Regions from separate parts of the Homo sapiens genome. Here region 1 is linked to region 2. The links come from fine-mapping of genetic effects on gene expression. A gene starts in region 2. The other region holds a variant in brackets. All regions are shown on one strand. Distances are between the middles of the regions.

The links. PIP is the estimated chance that this variant, and not a neighbour inherited with it, causes the effect.
Region 1: its variant is fine-mapped to the expression of TECR in blood mononuclear cells (TOPMed, PIP above 0.99). The same link has a PIP of 0.9 or more in whole blood.

Annotation. Positions count from the first base shown.
Region 1 is chr19:14,557,257-14,566,731 of GRCh38, forward strand. It overlaps TECR (trans-2,3-enoyl-CoA reductase), which reads left to right. Exons shown (of 13, transcript NM_138501.6): 2 at 5,269-5,319; 3 at 5,950-6,001; 4 at 6,402-6,446; 5 at 6,544-6,647; 6 at 6,726-6,841; 7 at 6,926-7,031; 8 at 7,530-7,602; 9 at 7,693-7,736; 10 at 7,810-7,867; 11 at 7,946-8,034; 12 at 8,362-8,407; 13 at 8,488-8,724. The coding sequence ends at 8,615. It overlaps NDUFB7 (NADH:ubiquinone oxidoreductase subunit B7), which reads right to left. Exons shown (of 3, transcript NM_004146.6): 3 at 8,822-9,009. The coding sequence ends at 8,877. It also overlaps a transcript of DNAJB1 not described here. Among named protein-coding and RNA genes, the nearest start is that of NDUFB7, 10 kb to the right of the region's middle. RefSeq lists enhancers at 1-140, 5,587-6,394, 8,011-8,817 and a silencer at 7,284-7,433. The variant C/T (reference allele first, on the strand shown) is at 4,681.
Region 2 is chr19:14,524,515-14,533,989 of GRCh38, forward strand. It overlaps TECR (trans-2,3-enoyl-CoA reductase), which reads left to right and starts at 5,080. Exons shown (of 13, transcript NM_138501.6): 1 at 5,080-5,197. The coding sequence starts at 5,183. MIR639 (microRNA 639) reads left to right here and starts at 5,029; the gene lies at 5,029-5,126. It also overlaps a transcript of DNAJB1 not described here. RefSeq lists enhancers at 4,824-5,408, 5,772-5,831 and a silencer at 4,882-5,171.

The DNA of each region.
Region 1 (9,475 bases), 33 kb after region 2:
CAACCTCCTGAGTAGCTGGGATTACAGGCACACACCACCATGCCTGGCTAATTTTTGTATTTTTATTAGAGACGGGGTTTCACCATGTTGGGCAGGCTGGTCTCGAACTCCTGGCCTCAGGTGATCTGCCTGCTTCGGCCTCCCAAAGTGCTGGGATTACAGGTGTGAGCCATAGTGCCCCGCCTAATCATATTTATTCTTTTTTTAAATTTTGAGATGGAGTCTTGCTCTGTCTCCCAGGCTGGAGTGCAGTGGTGCGATATCAGCTCACTGCAACCTCCTCCTCCTGGGTTCAAGCAATTCTCCTGCCACAGCCTCCTGAGTAGCTGGGATTACAGGCATGCACCACCACGCCTGGCTAATTTTTGTATCTTTGGTAGAGACGGGGTTTCGCCATGTTGTCCAGGCTGGTCTTGAACTCCTGACCTCAGGTAACCCGCCCACCTTGGCCTCCCAAAGTGCTAGGATTACAGGCATGAGCCACCGTGCCCGGTCATCATATTTATTCTTTTTTTTTGAGATGGAGTCTTGCTCTGTCGCCCAGGCTGGAGTGCAGTGGCGCGATCTCGGTTCACTGCAAGCTCTGCCTCCCGGGTTCGCGCCATTCTCCTGCCTCAGCCTCCCGAGTAGCTGGGACTACAGGCACCCACCACCGCACCCGGCTAATTTTTTGTATTTTTAGTAGAGATGGGGTTTCACCGTGTTAGCCAGGATGGTCTCGATCTCCTGACCTCGTGATTCGCCCGCCTCGGCCTCCCAAAGTGCTGGCATTACAGGCGTGAGCCACCACGCCCGGCCTATATTTATCCTTAATAAGATTTATCCTAAACTGGGGATGATTACGGTAACCCTGTCAGATGGCAGCTGGGGACAGCCCACTTTGCCATGAGTAGATGGAAGTTCAGAGAGGTTGGGTAACTTGCCCAGGGCCACACAGCCAGGAAATGGGCAGGTCTGCTTCTCTGGGTTGTTCACCCACCAGGCGGGCGGGTTCCCAGGAGCTGTGACAAGTGCTTAGACAACGAGAGCCCCCCTTTTCACTCCTCCTGCCCCCATTAGTAATATCTTCATGACCACAAAGACAGTGAAGACGGGCTCTGTTGCTTGCGGCACTCCCCTCTGGGCTTGGGAGGCACAAACCTCGCCCCTGCTCCCTCTTGCAGGGTGCGCTTCACGCCGCACCGTGTGTCCTGGCTCTTGGCTCTGCCCTGACCTCGTGCTGCGACGAGTTGCTGTTGGCTGGGCCCCGGGAATCTTGGGCCTCCTGGTGAGAATTCCTCTCAGGCTAGTGGAACTGTCATCACAGAGCCACAGGCCGGCAGAGCCACCAGCCTGTGCCCCAGGCCAGAGTGCCTGCCTGTCTGCCCGTTCCTGCCCTCTCCCTGCCCGTCGTGCCTGAGGCTATGTGGTCTCACCCCTTGCCCGTGGCCAGTGCTGGGACCTCGCTGACACCAGTAGCCCCCCTCCCACAGGTATCCCTTCATCCACCCAGAGCATCTCAGCCCCTCCCAGCCCCTCCGAGTGGCTCCGTGGGCTTCCTCAGAAGGTCCTGTCTGTCCTCCCTGCCTCACCGCTTCTCCTGGAGATGGGGCCAGAGCCTGCCACCTCCCCGTCTGTGCTCAGGATCCCCTGCCTGGGGCTCTGTTCAGCAGCTGCCTGTACCCTCTGCAGCCCTGGGCTTCCCCTGGGAGCCCCTGCCCCCTGTTGGCCTCAGGCCTGGGCAGGCGTGTGTGTGTGTGGCAGGCACAGAGCAGAGATTGGGGTGGCAGTGGGGTGTGGGGCGCGGAGCCCTCGATGAGGTCTCACATTAGGCCCTCCCTCTGAGGGGTGGGGAACCTCTCCTGCTCCTCCCACCCGACTGTTTTTATTTTGATGGGTATGTGGGGCCTGTTTGTTACCCCTCACCCCTTTAAACAATAATTTATTGAGGTGAAATTCATGTAACATGAAACTAACCATTTAAAAGTGAACAGTGGCATTGAGTGCACGTGCATCATTGTGCAGCCTCCACCTCTGTCTCGTCCCAGAACATTTTCCTCACTCTGAAAGGAGACCGGGTACCCAGCAGCAGCCACTCCCCATTCCCCCCGCCCAGCCCCTGGCCCCTCCAATTTGCTTTTCTGTCTGTCTGCTCTGGGTATTTTGCATAGATATGGGACCTTTGTGTCTGGCTTGTTTCCTAGCGTAACTTATTTCTTTTACCCCACCTGGAATATCTTATTTAACTTTCTTACTTAGAAATAATTATAGGCCGGGCCAGGTGGCTCACGCCTATAATCCTAGCACTTTGGGAGGCCGAGGTGGTGGATTGCCTGAGCTCAGGAGTTCGAGACCAGCCTGGGCAACATGGTGAAACCCCATCTCTCCTAAAATACAAAAAATTAGCTGGATGTGGTGGTGTGTGCCTGTAATCCCAGCTACTCTGGAGGCTGAGGCAGGAGAATCGTTTGAACCTGGGGGGCGGAGGTTGCAGTGAGTCAAGATCGCACTGCTGCACTCCAACCTGGGCGACAGAGTGAGACTCTGTCTCAAAAAAAAAAAAAAATTATAGAGACACAGGGAATTGCAAGAATAGTATGGAGAGGTCTCCTGCTCCCCCCAGAGCCTTTCAGTCCTCTCTCTAGGAGGAGATGGCCGACGAGCTGGGGATTTGGGGCAGGAAATGGGAGACGGACGGCCGTCCCACTGAGGACTCATCCTGCCCAGGTGGCCCTAGCCTTGGGCATTTCTTGTCTGTAGGGGCCCCTAGGTGCTGCCTTGCAGCCCGGGCTTACCTCCTTGCAGGTTTGGGCGTCTCCTCTCCTTGGGCCTCAGGCTGGCCTGGGCACCACTGCTGCAGCTGTGAGCGTGGCCCCTCTCTCGCTACCCCCTCCTGCCGCAGCCCGGCGTCCTCTCCCAGCAGCTAGCCGGGACCCCGATGGCCGTACTCTCCCTCTTGGGCCCTGGTTTGGTGCCCAGGTTGGGGGGAGCAGGGTACGATTTCACCCCTCCCACTAGCAGCTGGCTGGACAGGGAGAGGGGCTGGTTGTATTTTAAGCTGTTGAGTGGTTCAGCAGGAACTCGGAGGCCTTCTCTCCCTGTGGACGCTAGGCTGCCTTCCTACAGGCCACACGGGCTTGGAAGCATGTGGGCACTGCCTGCCTGGGGCCCAGGAACTATTAATATACCTGCAGCCACAGGGCAGGCCCCGTGCCCGCCCAGGGCCCTGCTGTGCTAACCCTTTCCCGTGGATCCCGCCCCGTGTCCTCTGTCCCTATCCTACATATCCCCTTGGTGGGGCCCAACGTCCTGCGTGGTGTGACCGAGCTCTTTTTTTCTGGCCCCTCCATGTGCCAGCTCTTTGGCCTTGTTATCGCTGTGGCTTGGAGGAGTTCAGTAACCTTCCCCTAGAGGCCACAAGGCCAGGCAGTGCCTGGAGTTGACAGCAGGGACTCAGGAGGCCCCGTGGGCCAGGATTTCCTGGCTGCTGGGCCCATTCCCACCCTCCTGTCCAGGAAGTGGGGGCGAGTGTGTCATGGCTGGGGAAATAGGCCCCCATGCTGTGGTGACTGCCAGGCCAGCAGGGGAGTGGGGATCTGAACCAAACCCACGGGCAACAATGCCTCCTATCCCATGGGGTGCCTCCCATCTGTCAGGGGTCACCTAGTGTACCCCATGCATTGTCTCAGGGGACCGTCACAGTCCTGGGAGGTAGTCTGCTTCCTACCTGCCCCCTTCTGAGGCCTAGAGAGAGGTGACATGCCTGGGGTCCCCCAGGGACTACAAGGCAGGGCTGGTTACGGTTCCCGAGTGCAGGCCACCAAGCCCCCTTGTCTCCCGCTGTCGTTGGGAATGTGCAGGAGGGGTACCCAGCTTCTCTGGCTTGACCGTGGTGCCCTCATCTTCAGGATGGGCCCTAGCTGCCGTGGCCCGGTCTCCCTGGGCTCTGGGTGGGTGGGCCTGCCCTGGGATGGCCCCAGCCCAGAGGTTTGTTTCTGAGCATTGTGTCCTGCTCCTTTTCCTCAGGCAGCCTCTGGGGGCCCCCGCTGGGTTTCTGTGGGTAGGAAGGGTCCCCCAAGAATTGCTGGCTGGTGGCTGACTTGGGATCAGGCCTGCCTGCTTGCCACGACCCCTGTATAATAGGATTGCACTGACCCCTGCATAGGGTGGGTCAGATCCCCGGGGGCTGCCTCCCTCCAGCCCTGCCCCTCTGCACCCCCATCGTTCATCACTGGCCTGGGGGCTCAGGGAGGGCTGGGCCAGACTCCTACCTCAGGGGCTGGCACAGGCCTGGCTCTTGGACGCAGGAAGCGCCGGGCTTTAGTGGGGCGCAGGTCCTGGGTGAGGGTGCAGTGTTTGGGCTGACTCAGTGGAAAGCCTGCCCCACAGGTGGCTATAAGGTGAGAAGTGGGTGGGGAGGAAGGTTGGGGAGACCTCATCAGCCCAAGCTGGAGGCGGTTGCCTAAAACTTCCACACACCCCGATCCTTTCCACACTTCGAGAGAGGCTCTCTGCACCCATAACTCCAGAATCTGTCACCTCCCTGGTAACACAAATGCACAAGGAAAATAATCCAAAGTGTCTCTTACAGCTCAGAAGGGGAAATGGATGATCTGTCTCGCGGATTCTCAAAATAGCTGGGATTTCTCCAAGCCCAGTGAACTCCCTAGGCCTGAGCTGCGGGCTGGGGCCTGCACGGCC[C/T]GCTGGCCTCTCACTCTCCTCTAGCCACTGGCTCTGTGCAGGGCGGGGGCTGGGAGGTGTTGTCATGCCTGCCCCTGGGGCTTTCCCTGTGCTGGTGCCGTTGAGGGTTTTGAGGTGACCACTCAAAAGCTGCTTTCAGGGCAGCCTGGCTCCCCGGGGAGACTCCCAAGCCCCCCTCAGAGAAGGTCTGTGGCATGGCTCCTGGGGGGCGCAGTCTGGGGTGGTTTTATATTTAGCTGGGCTGTGGCTGTGGTTGCCACTCGGGTTACATCTGGCACAGAAGTCGGCAGTGCCAGGGCCGGCACGGGCTCCTTTCCAGCACCGCGGCAGAATTTGATCGCGCTTGCCCGGCCCAGGGCTGCTTCCCGTGGGGAGGTCGGTGGTGGGGGCTGACGGCCGGCAGCTGGGGCTGCTGGCCACCGTGGGCAGAGCCGAGTGGCAGGGCTGGTGGCAGGCGGCATGGACTTGAACTTGAGCTTGTTGGCCCGGGAGGCCACCCCAGGCCTCCTCCCTGGCCTCAATGGGCTCCCCAGGCCCACACCCCCAAAGGTGGCCAAGAAACCTAAAAAGGCTGTTCTCTTCTTCGAGGTGGAGATTCTGGACGCAAAGACAAGGGAGAAGCTGTGTTTCTTGGACAAGGTAGGACTGGGGCGTGGGCTGCACTGGGCCAAGGGCACTGGGCCCGGGACCCCAATCCTTATAGCCCAGGAGCTGTCCAGTGGGGCCCTTTGTGCCCCACCCCCTGCCCTATGGAGGGGTATGCCCTCACTTGGGGTAGGGTGGATAGCCATGTCCCCTGGGTGTGGCGGGGAAATGGAGGCACAGGAGTCTCAGTGGACCCTGCGGGGATTTTGGTCCTGGGAGGGCGGTGGAGGAGTGAGCCTTGCCCCTGCTGAGGCCGGGCCTGGGGGAAGGGGCTTGCGCTGTCCCTGGGGAGGACAGAGGGCCTTTGCTCCTGGGAGAGTCATGGGTGAGAAGTGGAGAGGAGGGGCAGAGAAGCAGGCTTGCCTTCCCATGCTTAATCCGCCACTAGCCGGGCTGGGGGCCTGCTGGCTGAGGGTAAAAGTGGAGCCCCAGACCCCTGCTGTCACTGCACTGGCAGGGCCCTCGGTGGTCCTTCCCTGACTGCAGGCAGAGGCCTGGACCCCAGCCCTTCCCCCTTCCCATAGCTACAGCCCAACCCCCAGCCTGCCATCCCCTTTAGTACCTCCCCATCCTGAGTCTGGGCTCCCCGCAGAGCTGACGTCCCTGCGCCTGTGCTTCCCCCAGGTGGAGCCCCACGCCACCATTGCGGAGATCAAGAACCTCTTCACTAAGACCCGTGAGTTCTAGTCCCGGCCACACTGCCCCTGCAACCCCTTTGACCAGGGACCTTAGGGTGGGAGGGATCCCATCCTGCACCCCTCTCCCAGGGGCCTGCAGAGATGCCCCAGTGTGGCCCAGGCTTCTGGGGCGTGACTGGGGCAGGCGCCTCCACGTGGCACTCCGCAGGAACGCCCTTGCTAGGCTCTGGGAAGGACAAGATCCTGCTTCTGCCCGCGCTCTTCTGGCTTGTGTCCTGAAACCGCACAAGCCTGAGGGTTTGCCCCCAGGTGGGAGGAGCTGTGGAGTCCTGGGGTCCTTGCACCCTGGGAACCCTGAGAAGCTGGCACAGTGGCTGGGCAGCGGACCGGCTGAGCCCTGCCAGGCTGTGGGCTGTAACTGCCCTGTTCTCCCCGCAGATCCGCAGTGGTACCCCGCCCGCCAGTCCCTCCGCCTGGACCCCAGTGAGTACAGCTGTCCACTCGGCCCGCCCCCTGGGCTCCTGGGTGGCAGTGGGAGAAGGCCCGGGTAGCCCCTGAGCCCTGGCCCGCCTCTCTGCAGAGGGCAAGTCCCTGAAGGATGAGGATGTTCTGCAGAAGCTGCCCGTGGGCACCACGGCCACACTGTACTTCCGGGACCTGGGGGCCCAGATCAGCTGGGTGACGGTGAGTCCTGACCCTACCCACGGCCTCTTTTCCCGTCAGCCACGTTGGGTGACTCATCTTGCCCCCCTCTACTCTCAGGTCTTCCTAACAGAGTACGCGGGGCCCCTTTTCATCTACCTGCTCTTCTACTTCCGAGTGCCCTTCATCTATGGCCACAAATATGACTTTACGTCCAGTCGGCATACAGTGGTGCAGTAAGTGGGGCAGGTGGGAGGAGGGTAGGGGAAGGCAGAAGACCTGCCGGACCAGCCCCAGCTGAGCCTGCTCCCCCCGACCAGCCTCGCCTGCATCTGTCACTCATTCCACTACATCAAGCGCCTGCTGGAGACGCTCTTCGTGCACCGCTTCTCCCATGGCACTATGCCTTTGCGCAACATCTTCAAGGTGAGAGCCCGTCCCCGCCTCACCCCTAAGCCCCGCCTTTCTGCCCCACCCCGCCCCGCCCCCACCGAGCCCCACCCCAAGGCCCTTCCTGTCTGCCACTACGCCCCAGCAGAGCCCTACCCCTAGGCCCCGCCTAACCTCCCCAGCCCCGCCCTCGCAGAGCCTCTAGACCCCGCCCGTCCTCCCCAGCCCCGCCCCCGTCGGGCCCCTAGGCCTGCCTATCCACCCTAGTCCCACCCCTAGGCACCGCCTATCCCCCCAGCCCCGCCCCTGCAGAGCCCCGCCCCAGTTTCACCCCTAGGCCCCTCCTGTCCACCACGCCCTCACAGAGCCCTGCCCTAGCCTCACCCCTTGGCCCCGCCTATCCTCCCCAGCCCCGCCCCAAGGCCCCTCCTGTCCTTTCCCACCATGCTCCCAGGCCCCTCGGGATGAGACATGGGCAGCATCTGCCTTGTCCGGTGCTGGCCCAAGTCCCATCCCTGCCCTGCTCCCTTTCAGAACTGCACCTACTACTGGGGCTTCGCCGCGTGGATGGCCTATTACATCAATCACCCTCTCTACACTCCCCCTAGTAAGTGGCCTCAGACCATCCTTCCCTCCCCCACGGTCCCCACCCAGCGGGTCCTCCCCTCATGGGCTCCCCTCCCTGCTTCCTCTTCAGCCTACGGAGCTCAGCAGGTGAAACTGGCGCTCGCCATCTTTGTGGTAAGGAGGCTGGGTGTGGGGACGGGGTCGGGGGAGTCTGGGCGGCCCTAGGCTGATCCTGCTTCTCTGACAGATCTGCCAGCTCGGCAACTTCTCCATCCACATGGCCCTGCGGGACCTGCGGCCCGCTGGTGAGTGCCTGCTGGGGGCAGGGGGACAGCTGGGCTGGGTGAGGGGGTCTGACTTTCTCCTTCTGTCCTGCCTGCCAGGGTCCAAGACGCGGAAGATCCCATACCCCACCAAGAACCCCTTCACGTGGCTCTTCCTGCTGGTGTCCTGCCCCAACTACACCTACGAGGTGAGGGGCTGCCTTACCCCTCTCTGCCCTGGGACTTGGGGTCCCATGTGGAGGGACCAGCCCCTAGGATGGGGCGCCTGGCTGGGCAGCTGCTTTTGCCGCCTGCACTGCGAGCATTGGGAGGTGGAGACCGCGGCCTCTCTGCTGTGGTGGCGGGGAGGCGTGTGCCGCTGGGCTTCCGCCGTATACAGCCCCGCCTCCGCTGGAATTGGGTTCCCATCCCTGACTCAGAAAGCAGGGGCGGCGGGAGGTGGCTGGCTGAGTCCAGGACAGCCACATACACGGGTTGCGAGGCTGCCCACGCTCACTCTCCGCCCCTGCCCACAGGTGGGGTCCTGGATCGGTTTCGCCATCATGACGCAGTGTCTCCCAGGTGAGCCTGCCGCCCTCCCTCGGCGGGGCCCTGCCCCTCCGGGCCGGCAGCCCCTCCCTGACGCCCGTTCTTTCCTGCAGTGGCCCTGTTCTCCCTGGTGGGCTTCACCCAGATGACCATCTGGGCCAAGGGCAAGCACCGCAGCTACCTGAAGGAGTTCCGGGACTACCCGCCCCTGCGCATGCCCATCATCCCCTTCCTGCTCTGAGCGCTCACCCCTGCTGAGGCTCAGCCCCTCAACCCGGTGGCATTCTGGGGGAGGAGTGGGGCCCACAGCTCTCCAGCACCCGGAATAAAGCCCGCCTGCCCCAGTCGGACTCGGGCTCTGTGTGTTTCTTTCCGGGGTTGGGGACCACCACACTGCCCTTCACTCTCTCCCCACTCTCGCGTCGGAGCAGTAAGAGGGGACTCTGGTTGAGGGGCCTGAAGGCTTTTATTTGACTGGTCCATAGGGTGGGGGGTGCACCCCCTACAGGGCCACCTTGGGGTCCACTTCCCCGGGTCCCTGGCCTTTGGCCAACTCTGCCGCCTTCTTCTCCCGCCGCTTCTTCCGCTGGAGCAGCCTCCGCTCCCGCTCAAACTCCTTCATGCGCATCACATAGCTGGGGGAAAAGCACGAGAGGGGCTGTCAGGGTCCCTGGCCAGGACACGCCCCCCAAGCCCTGGGAAGCGGAGGGGCCGTCCCAGAGCACTGTGGGGGAGGCCTCTGAAGAAGACATGTCCGAGTGCCTGTGGCTTGGGTCTGGGGTCTGCCCACGCAGGTGGCAGGGCTTCCCACTGGAACCTGGGCTTGGCCACTCCCCTAGGTGGCTTCAGCCACCTGCCCTGTCCCCATCAAACAGGCCCCTAGAGAGCCCTCTCTGGGACTAAGGTGGGGCCCGGCTAGAAACCTCAGTGGCAGTTCAGGTCCCTGGCCTCTGGAGCCACATCCTGCCAGGGGCCAGGCCTGGGTGGGGTGCAGGCTGTGGGTGTTGGCGGGGGTGGGAGGGGGGCTTGGGCGGGCTGGGCATGTGGGGGGCTTGGGTGGGCCAGGGGTGTGGAAGGCTGGGGGTATGGGGTGTTGCGGGC
Region 2 (9,475 bases):
TGTCTCAAAAATAAATAAAAATCCAAATAAATTTGGAAAAGATCTTCAAGGCTGGGTGCGGTGGCTCATGCCTGTAATCTCAGCACTTTGGGAGGCTGAGGCAGGTGGATCCCTTGAAGTCAGGAGTTCGAGACCAGCCTGGCCAACATGGTGAAACCCCATCTCTATTAAAAATGCAAAAATTAGTCAGGCATGGTGGCGTGCACCTGTAATCCCAGCTATTTGGGAGGCTGAGGCAGGAGAATCACTTGAACCTAGGAGGTGGAGGTTGCAATGAGCCGAGATGGTGCCACTGCACTCCAGCCTGGACAACAGAGCGAGACTCGTTCTCAAAAAAAAAAGACCTTCAAAAAGCGCTATAGCCATATGAGCCAACAATCCCACTCCCAGTGGGATACCCATGTGAAATGAAAACCTTTGTTCATATATAAAAATTCATGGCTGGGTGCGGTGGCTCATGCCTGTAATCCCAGCACTTTGGGAGGCCGAGGCGGGAGGATCACAAGGTCAAGAGATGGAGACCATCCTGACCAACATGGTGAAATTCCGTCTGTACTAAAAACACAAAAATTAGCTGGGCATGGTGGTGCACACCTGTAACCCAGCTATTCGGGAGGCTGATGCAGGAGAATCGCTTGAACCCAGAAGGTGGAGGTTGCAGTGAGCCGAGATTGCGCCACTGCACTCCAGCCTGGGTGACAGAGCGAGACTCCATCTCAAAAATAAAAATAAAAAAGATACTATTATAATGTTCATTTCCTGGCTCCTCTCAATTTCATCAACATAGCAACACCAGCAGGGTAAAATCTACTTTTTTTGTTTTTTTTTTTGAGATGGAGTCTCATGAGCGAATGTTTGCTGAGGCTTTATTAGTTATTACCAACAGCAGTTAAACCCTAACTGTCCTTCAATGGATGAATGGATAAACAAATGGGATCCATCCACACAATGGAATACTATTCAGCTATAAAAAGGAATGAGCTACGGATACAAAAAAACAACATTACAGATGAACCTCATATGCATTATGTGGGTGAAAGAAGCCAGGCTCAAAAGGCTGCATGATTCCATTTCACTCAACCTTCTGGAAAAGGCAAAAGTATCAGGACAGAAAGCAGATGAATGCTTGCCAGGGGCTGGGACCTGCAACAAATGGAGTAGTTTGGAGAATTTTTTGGGTTGGTGTAAATGCTCTGTATCTTGATTGTAGTGGTGGTTGCATGACCGTATGTGTTCAGAGCTGTACACTAAAATGGGTGAATTTTACTACATGTCAATTACACTTCAATGAAAAAAAAAAAAAGAAGGAGAAAAACCAAACAACCCAGGCAAGACAGGATAGGGCTTGGGAAACCTCTCTCTGGGATTCCTGACACAGCAGAAACTTGCTAACGAGCCCTGGCTTGTCTAGTCCCAGCTTCACCTCCCCTCACACACCCAGCGAGCCAGCTCATTCATACACAACCCAAACCAGCCAAGCCAGGTTCTGGAAAAAGTCAAGATCCGACCTGATCTGCCCATGGGAAATACAAAAGGAGCTTGTGAGACACGACATTACCAAACACATCACATCTCTGGCATTCAAATGGTCTCGGGTTCCCCCCAAACCTGAGGTCCAGAAAAGCTCATCCTTGGAAGCTGCCGCAGCTTAGGCCGTCTCTTGCAGTTTCTCCCTTGGAAATTACTTTAATAAAGGAGCTAGTTACCATCAGCTCAACAACGACCCAACAGATCTACCAGTCACCATTGTGAATCAGCCACTGCTGGGACTGTGAAGGGACCAGCAGGATCTAGCTGTCCCTACAGACAGGCACTGTCAGGGGGCCACAGTACAGTGTCCTCAGTGGCTTGAACAAAGTGGCCAGTCTTCATTCCAAGGGTGGGTTTCATTTCTGCTGACAGCCTGGTTACCGGAAGCCAGATGGGCAAACAAGGGGTTCCTCAAGCCTGCAACACCCCTCAAAAACAAAGAGGAATTCTACTTTGGAGGCTGGATCTTGCCTTTCTGCCAGCTTCTTATGGGTGAGGAGGGGGTGGAAATTATTTGTATGTTCCGGTTGACACGCAGCATAGTAGGTGCATGAGGATGATTTGGTGCCTGTTGAGTAAGTGTGGGGCTCAGAAAAGCAGTCTCAAAAGGGAATTTCCAAAACGTTCTGAGTTTATGGGAATATGTATGGAATCTCTTCAAAATGACACCTACTTGTACACCATCATGCCCTATCTAACTGCAACCCAGAGATGGAAGACTCACCTCTTCAGATCACATTAAATAAGTTGAAAATTTGCATAACTGGTGAAGGAGCAACACATGGATGGGTCTTAGGGTTTCAACCCTATCCCCATGGCCCCTCACAATCAAGTACCTCAGGTAACTCAATCTGATAGGATTTTAACTGTGGTCTCAGGCCGAGTGGGATGGCTCATGCCTGTAATCCCAGCGCTTTGGGAGGCCGAGGAGGGAGGATCACTTGAGGCCAGGAGTTCCAGAGCAGCCTGGGCAACATAATGAGATCCCATCTCTACTAAAAAATTAACTTGTGGCCTGGAAGCAAATACTCTCCCCCAGCACCCAAGAAGGGCAGGGAGTGAGGCCTGTCATGACACAGAAGGCCTCAAAACTCAAACTGCCACCAGAAAAATATCTCTGCTTTTTTTTTTTTTTTTTTTTTTTTTTTTTTTTTGAGACGGAGTTTCATTCTTGTCACCCAGGCTGGAGTGCAGTGGTGTGATCTCTGCTCACTGCAACCTCTGCCTCCTGGGTTCAACTGATTCTTCTGCCTCAGCTACTTGAGTAGCTGTGATTACAGGTGCCCACCACCACACCCAGATAATTTTTGTACTTTTAGTAGAGATGGTTTCGCCATGTTGGCCAAGCTGGTCTCAAACTCCTGACCTCAGGTGATCCTCCTGCCTCGGCCTCCCAAAGTGCTGGGATTACAGGCCTGAGCCACTGCGTCCGGCCAGATCCTTGCTTTTGAAAGCACACATACAGAACACCTTCAGGTTTTCATCTGTTTTTCCCAGATAGCACCAGTGAAAAAGATAATGAGTTTCCAGAAGACCACATAGCGTTGGCTTCCTGTACTCGCAGTCAGGGATCCCCAAAGGCTACAGCTTCAGAAGTTTCCAGAGCCAAATCTGGATGACTGAGTTCCAAGCACTGACTCACCCTTGCCTCCGCCTGCTCCCCTGTGAATCAGTGATCTACCTTTAAGGACTTCTCATCGTGTCTCTCATGACAGGCCTGTGAATTCCAGATGGTTCAACAGCTCATGAAAGCTCAGGGGCAGGATCTGGAAACAAGAGTAAGGAGAGGAGGTGAAGAAGTGTGCCAGGTACTGCCTGTTCCTTTGTCTGTCAAAAGTCTTTTCTTTTTTTTTCTTTTTTTTTTGAGACAGAATCTCACTCTGTCGCCCAGGCTGGAGTGCAGTGGTGCGATCTTGGCTCACTGCAACCTCCACCTCCCGGGTTCAAGCGATTCTCAGCCTCCCTAGTAGCTGGGATTACAGGTGCCCACCATTACACCTGGCTAATTTTTGTATTTTTAGTAGAGACAGGGTTTCACCACGTTGTCCAGGCTGGTCTTGAATTCCTGACCTCATGTGATCTGCCTGTCTTGGCCTCCCGAAGTGCTGGGATTACAGGTGTGAGCCACCGTGCCTGGCCAGAAATTTATGTGTTTTTCATTTACAGCACATCTCAATTTGGACCAGTCCCATTTCTTTTTCTTTTTTCTTTTTTTTTTTTTGAGACGGTCTGTTGCTCAGGCTGGAGTGTAGTGGCGAGATCTTGGCTCACTGCAACCTCCGCCTCCCGGGTTCAAGCAATTCTTCTGCCTCAGCCTCCTGATTAGCTGGGACTACAGGTGTGTACCACCACGCCCGGCTAATTTTTGTATTTTTAGTAGCGATGAGGTTTCACCATATCTGCCAGGCTGGTCTCGAACTCCTCACCTCGTGATCTGCCCCCCTCGGCCTCCCAAGGTGCTAGGATTACAGGTGTGAGCCATCGTTCCCGGCCTGGACCAGCCCCATTTCAAGGGCTCAGTGGCCCCATTGGAGCCACTAGACACGATTCTGGACGTCAGGCAGAGACCAATGTAGTTCCCCTGTCCATAGGGCGGAGCAAAGTGTGGAGGGGGGCCGGGCGGGGTGGCTCAGGCCTGTAATCCTAGCACTTTGGGAGGCTGAGGCGGGAGGATCACCTGAGGTCAGGAGTTCAAGACCAGCCTGGCCAACCATGGGGAAACCCCGTCTCTACTAAAAAAAATACAAAAATTAGTCGGGCGTGGTGGCGGGTGCCTGTAATCTCATCTACTTGGGAGGCTGAGGCATGAGAATCGCTTGAACCCGGGAGGCGGAGGTTGCGTGAGCCGTCATTGCGCCACTGCACTCCAGCTGGGGGACAGAACGAGATTGTTTCAAAAACAAAACAAAACAGAAAAACAAAGTGGGGCGGGGCTTTCATTAAAAACGGCAGTGAAGCCACCCCAGAATGGGGCTGGGGCTCAAGGTTCTTGCAGGTTGGGGGTTCCCAAATGGGGAGCTTTTCGCGACTCCGTTTCGCCTTTCCTTCCCTCCCACTCAAGAGTCTCCTCCCATAGTGACCTCCTCGCCAACCAGACTCCGCAGCCCGCGACCCCAGCCCCTAGCCCTCTCCTGCTGTTCCCGGTGTACCCCGGGGGCCGCCCACCTCAGAATTTACCCCTTCGGCGCCGCCTGTCATGTGGATGCTGCCTTGCCTGTCACTCAACTTCTTACCCCGCCCCCGCGTCTGGCCTAACCGTCGCTTACCTTGGTTTCCACAGCGACGCCATCAGGGGGCGTGGCAAAGGGACGCGCGGGGCAGAGACCTCCTTTGGATTGGTGGATGGTCAAGCCCCTTCTCTTTAGCCCCTCCTACAGGCGTTCCGCCCCCTTCGATTGGTCTCGCAAGTTGATTGGTCAATCCCCTGGTGCTAGTCCTAGTCTTGGTTCGGACCGGCCCCAAGGAGCAGGGGCGAACGTGGGCGCCTCGTGCCCTGATTGGCCGACGGGGCGCGCGCGGCCTGGAGGGGCGGGGCGGACGCAGAGCCGCGTTTAGTCTATCGCTGCGGTTGCGAGCGCTGTAGGGAGCCTGTGCTGTGCCGCGCAGTTAGGCAGCAGCAGCCGCGGAGCAGTAGCCGCCGTGGGAGGGAGCCATGAAGCATTACGAGGTAAGAAGCGAGAAACAGGGGCCGTGTGGCCACTGCTGACCCATTCTTTTTCCTTCTTTGCGGGACCACGGGACCCCACTTTCTGGTCCTGTGCCCCGAAGGAAGAGCCAGACGGCGCAGGCGCAGTGGGCAAGCGTTGCGCCCCGGGCCACTCGTAAATTCCAATGCGCATGTGCGCAGGAAGTATTTATAAATCTGCAACCCAGGCTGTTTTGGGGGTACTTTTTCTTGGGGGTCTCTGCAGGGGCTGGGACGCTTGCAGGTTCCTTGCAGCTCCCCCAGCGGGCTGAGTTGCAGACTTTGTCATGGGAGCCACGAAGGTGCGGGACCCTTGCTCCCAATCCGAGGGAGTCTTGCACAAATCTTGCGCCACGCCGCCGTCACCAGCGTAGGAAGGGGCTTTGCTATCAGTATTCTTGTGTACGACCTTTGGACCCCTTCCCTCGCCCGGGACGTTCCCGGGAGACTTAGGCGGTGAGGGAGGTGCAGCTCCACGGCTGGCTTTCGCAGAGCAGCGAAGCTGATCTTGCTTTCTGGTTATCAAAGAGGTCATCTACGTCAACCCTTGGGTGTCACCAAGGAGAAATCTTATACCCACCCACAGCCACTCTTGAAGCCCAAGTCTTCTGACTCCTAACTTGGGTCTCTTTTTCCCTTAAAACGAAGTCTTCTGATGTGCTTATCGCCCTAGGTGATAATATAATATTAATAATTCAACCAATTATCCCTGAATTATTGCTGACTTTTAAGTAACTATCATCAAATAATAAAATTTGTTATTAAAATTCAAAATAACAATTTAGCAAGTGCTTACTCTTGTGCTGGTGAGATTCTGTTACCTTGTATAAGAACTATTATTATTCCTGTTTGTAAGGATGAATAAAGTCTCAGAGATATAAAGTGACTTGTTCAAAGGCCCCTAGTTAGTAAATGCAAAACAGATAGGGGAACTCAGGACGCCAAGGTCTTAGTTCCTAGCCACTATGCCATGCTGGTCCTCAAATGAAAAATAGCAGGTCGAGCGATTTCTTGTTTCTCACTTCCCCTCCAATTTAAAAAATTCTGGCAAAATACACATAAAATTTACCATCTTGACTATTTTTAAGTGTGCAGTTCAGTGGCATTAAGAACATTCACATTGTTGTGCAACCATCACCACCACCCATCTCCAGAACTCTTTGCATCTTGGAAAACAGAAGCTGTAGACGTTAAATACTAACTCCCCATTCCTCTCCACCTCCACCTCTGGCAGCCACCATTCTACTCAGCCACCATTCCGTCTTAATGAATTGACTACTCTAGGTACCTTGGATACGTAGAAGGATTTTTTTTTTCTTTTGGAGACAGAGTTTCGGTCTTATTGCCCGGGCTGGAGTGCAATGGCGCGATCTCGGCCTACTGCAAACTCCGCCTCCTGGGTTTAAGCGATTCTCCTGCCTCAGCCTCCTGAATAGCTGGGATTACAGGTGACCGCCACCATGCCCGGCTAATTTTTTGTATTTTTAGTAGAGATGGGGGTTTCACCATGTTGACCAGGCTGGCCTCAAACTCTTGACCTCAAGTGATTTGCCCTCCTCGGCCTCCCAAAGTACTGGGATTACAGGTGTGAGCTAGTGCGCCCGGCTGTTTGTTTTTATTGACAAGTTGAATATTACTACCTCTGCCTCCTGCCCCCTTTATTGCTACTATTTTTGGAAATTTACCCACAATCCTTTGAAGCCTTTTTTTGAGACGGAGTTTCGCTCTTGTTGAGTACGCTGGAGTGCAATGGCGTGATCTTGGCTCACCGCAACCTCCACCTCCCGGGTTCAAGTGATTCTCCTGCCCCAGCCTCCTGAGTAGCCGGAATTACAGTCATGAGCCACCATGCCCGGCTAATTTTGTATTTTTAGTAGAGACAGGGTTTCTCCATGTTGGTCAGGCTGGTCTCGAACTCCCGACCTCAGGTGATCCACCCACCTTGGCCTCCCAGAGTGCTGGGATTACAGGCATGAGCCACGGTGCCTAGCCCCTTAGAAGCCTTTAACCCACAAATCCTGTAATTTTTGACATGGTATCAAGAATGAGGAGGTTTGTATTCAATAATCTCTGTCATTTAAGTTTTCATTCTAGAATGAAGTTCTGATGTGGATTCCCCTCTCAAACTCTATATCTAAACCTGTAGTCCCACTACTGTAGTCTCAGCTACTCGGGAGGCTGAAGCAGGAGGATGGCTTGAGCCCAGGAGGTTGAGGCTGCAGTGAGCCCAAAAATCAGGCCACTGCACTCCAGCCTGGGCAACAGAGACCCTGTTTGAAGAAAAAAAAAAAAAAAAAAAAAAGCTACCATGTCCAGCTTGAAACATGCAGTTTGGAACATCCATATGGCATTTTGCAAATGTAGTTGGTTTAGTTTTGCTAGTTAACAGTCAGATAAAGTAGGCCTCTGAGCACCCTGGGGGTGCGTGCTTTTGTTCCAGGAAGCTGGGCACAGCCTGAGGCCCAAGACTTGGACTGGAGAATATGCTCCACCGTACTTAATCCTTTTCTCTCCCAGAAAGAAGGGGGAGCTTTGGCCAGGCATGGTGGCTCACGCCTGTAATCCCAGCACTTTGGTAGGCTGAGGTGGCCGGATCGCTTGAGGTGAGGAGTTCAAGACCAGCCTGGCTAACATGGAGAAACCTTGTCTCTACTAAAAATACAAAAGTGAGCCGAGTGTTGTGGCACACGCCTGTAATCTCAGCTACTTGGAGGCAGAGGTTGCAGTGAGCTGAGATCATGCCACTGTACTCCAGCCTGGATGACAGAGCGAGAGTCTGTCTCAAAAAAAAAAAAAAAAAAAAAAAGGGAAGCTTCAAACTCACTGTTCAAAGTGACCTTGAAGGAAAAAATAAATTGTTATTTTGCTGTGTTGTTTGTTATTCTCTGCCAACCTTTGCCAAGTACCCATAGAGGCGATAGCTACAGGGCTTCTGGGTGGGAGAAGCAGTTGTTTCCCGGCCCAGCGGATTGCATAGCAAGCAGATTAGTTTAACTGCATGTGTGTATTGTAGGTCAGTAAAAATAGAAAGGATGCTTTCACTCACACTTAACAAGCAATTTGAGAAAAGGTTTGTCTACATCAAAGAATATATTTCTGGCCGGGCGAGGTGGCTCATGCCTGTAATCCCAGCACTTTGGGAGGCTGAGACGGGTGAATCACTTGAAGTCAGGAGTTCGAGACCAGCCTGGTCAACATGGTGAAACCTCGTCTCTACTAAAAACAAAAAAATTAGCTGGGTATGGTGGCACGTGCTTGTAGTCCCAGCTACTGGCTTCGAGGCTGAGGAATGAGAATCACTTGAAGCTGGGAGGCGGAGTTGCCATGAGCTGAGATCACGCCACTGTACTCCAGCCTGGGTGACAGAGCGAGACTCTGTTTTAAAAAAAATAAATAAAGGATATATTTCAGCTGGGCACAGTGGCTCATGCCTGTAATCCCAGCACTTTGGGACACCAAGGTGGGCAAATCATGTGAGGTCAGGAGTTTGAGACCAGCCTGGCCAACATGATGAAACTCCGTCTCTACAAAAAATAAAAAATTAGCTGGGTGTGGTGGCGCACGCCTGAAATCCCAGGTACTTGGGAGGCTGAGGCAGGAGAATCACTTCAACCTGGGAGGTGGAGGTTGCAGTGAGCTGAGATCGCACCACTGCACTCCAGCCTGGGTGACAAGAACGAGACTCTGTCTCAAAAAAAAAAAGAAAAAAATCTATTTCTGCTTGGGACTAAATCCATCTTCCCACCCTCAAGCAGTCTGTTGTCCACTGAAAGGTTGGCCCCTGGAGAGACCTTGGAGATTATGAAGTGCAGTTTACAACTGATAGAGGTAATGCCCAGAGGGGTGCAGGACGTGCTGACTGTCACGCAACAAATTAATGTCTGGTTGAGGACTGTTATCATGGCAGTTGGGATCCCAGCAGTAGTGGAGATCGGTGGCTGTTTCCATAGTAGCCTCATATCACTGCCAAATCTCATCTGATCTGAGAGGAAAAGTTTTCCACTCTGTGGCCTAATTGAGGTGAAGCCTCTCTCTAGAACGGGTCACCTCCAGGCCTTGGCTGAAGCCGTCTTCTTAGAATACCAGAGCAGGCCTTAGCATTGTCTTGGGGTCAGAGCTAGGTCGGTAAGCGAACTGCTTATCCTAGGATACAGTATTTTTTTAATGTATTTTTTTATTTTATTGCTGTTTTTGCCACTGCAGATGAGACTCAAAGCAATGAGCCCAGCAGCAACTGGAAAAACAGCTACTACATCTTGT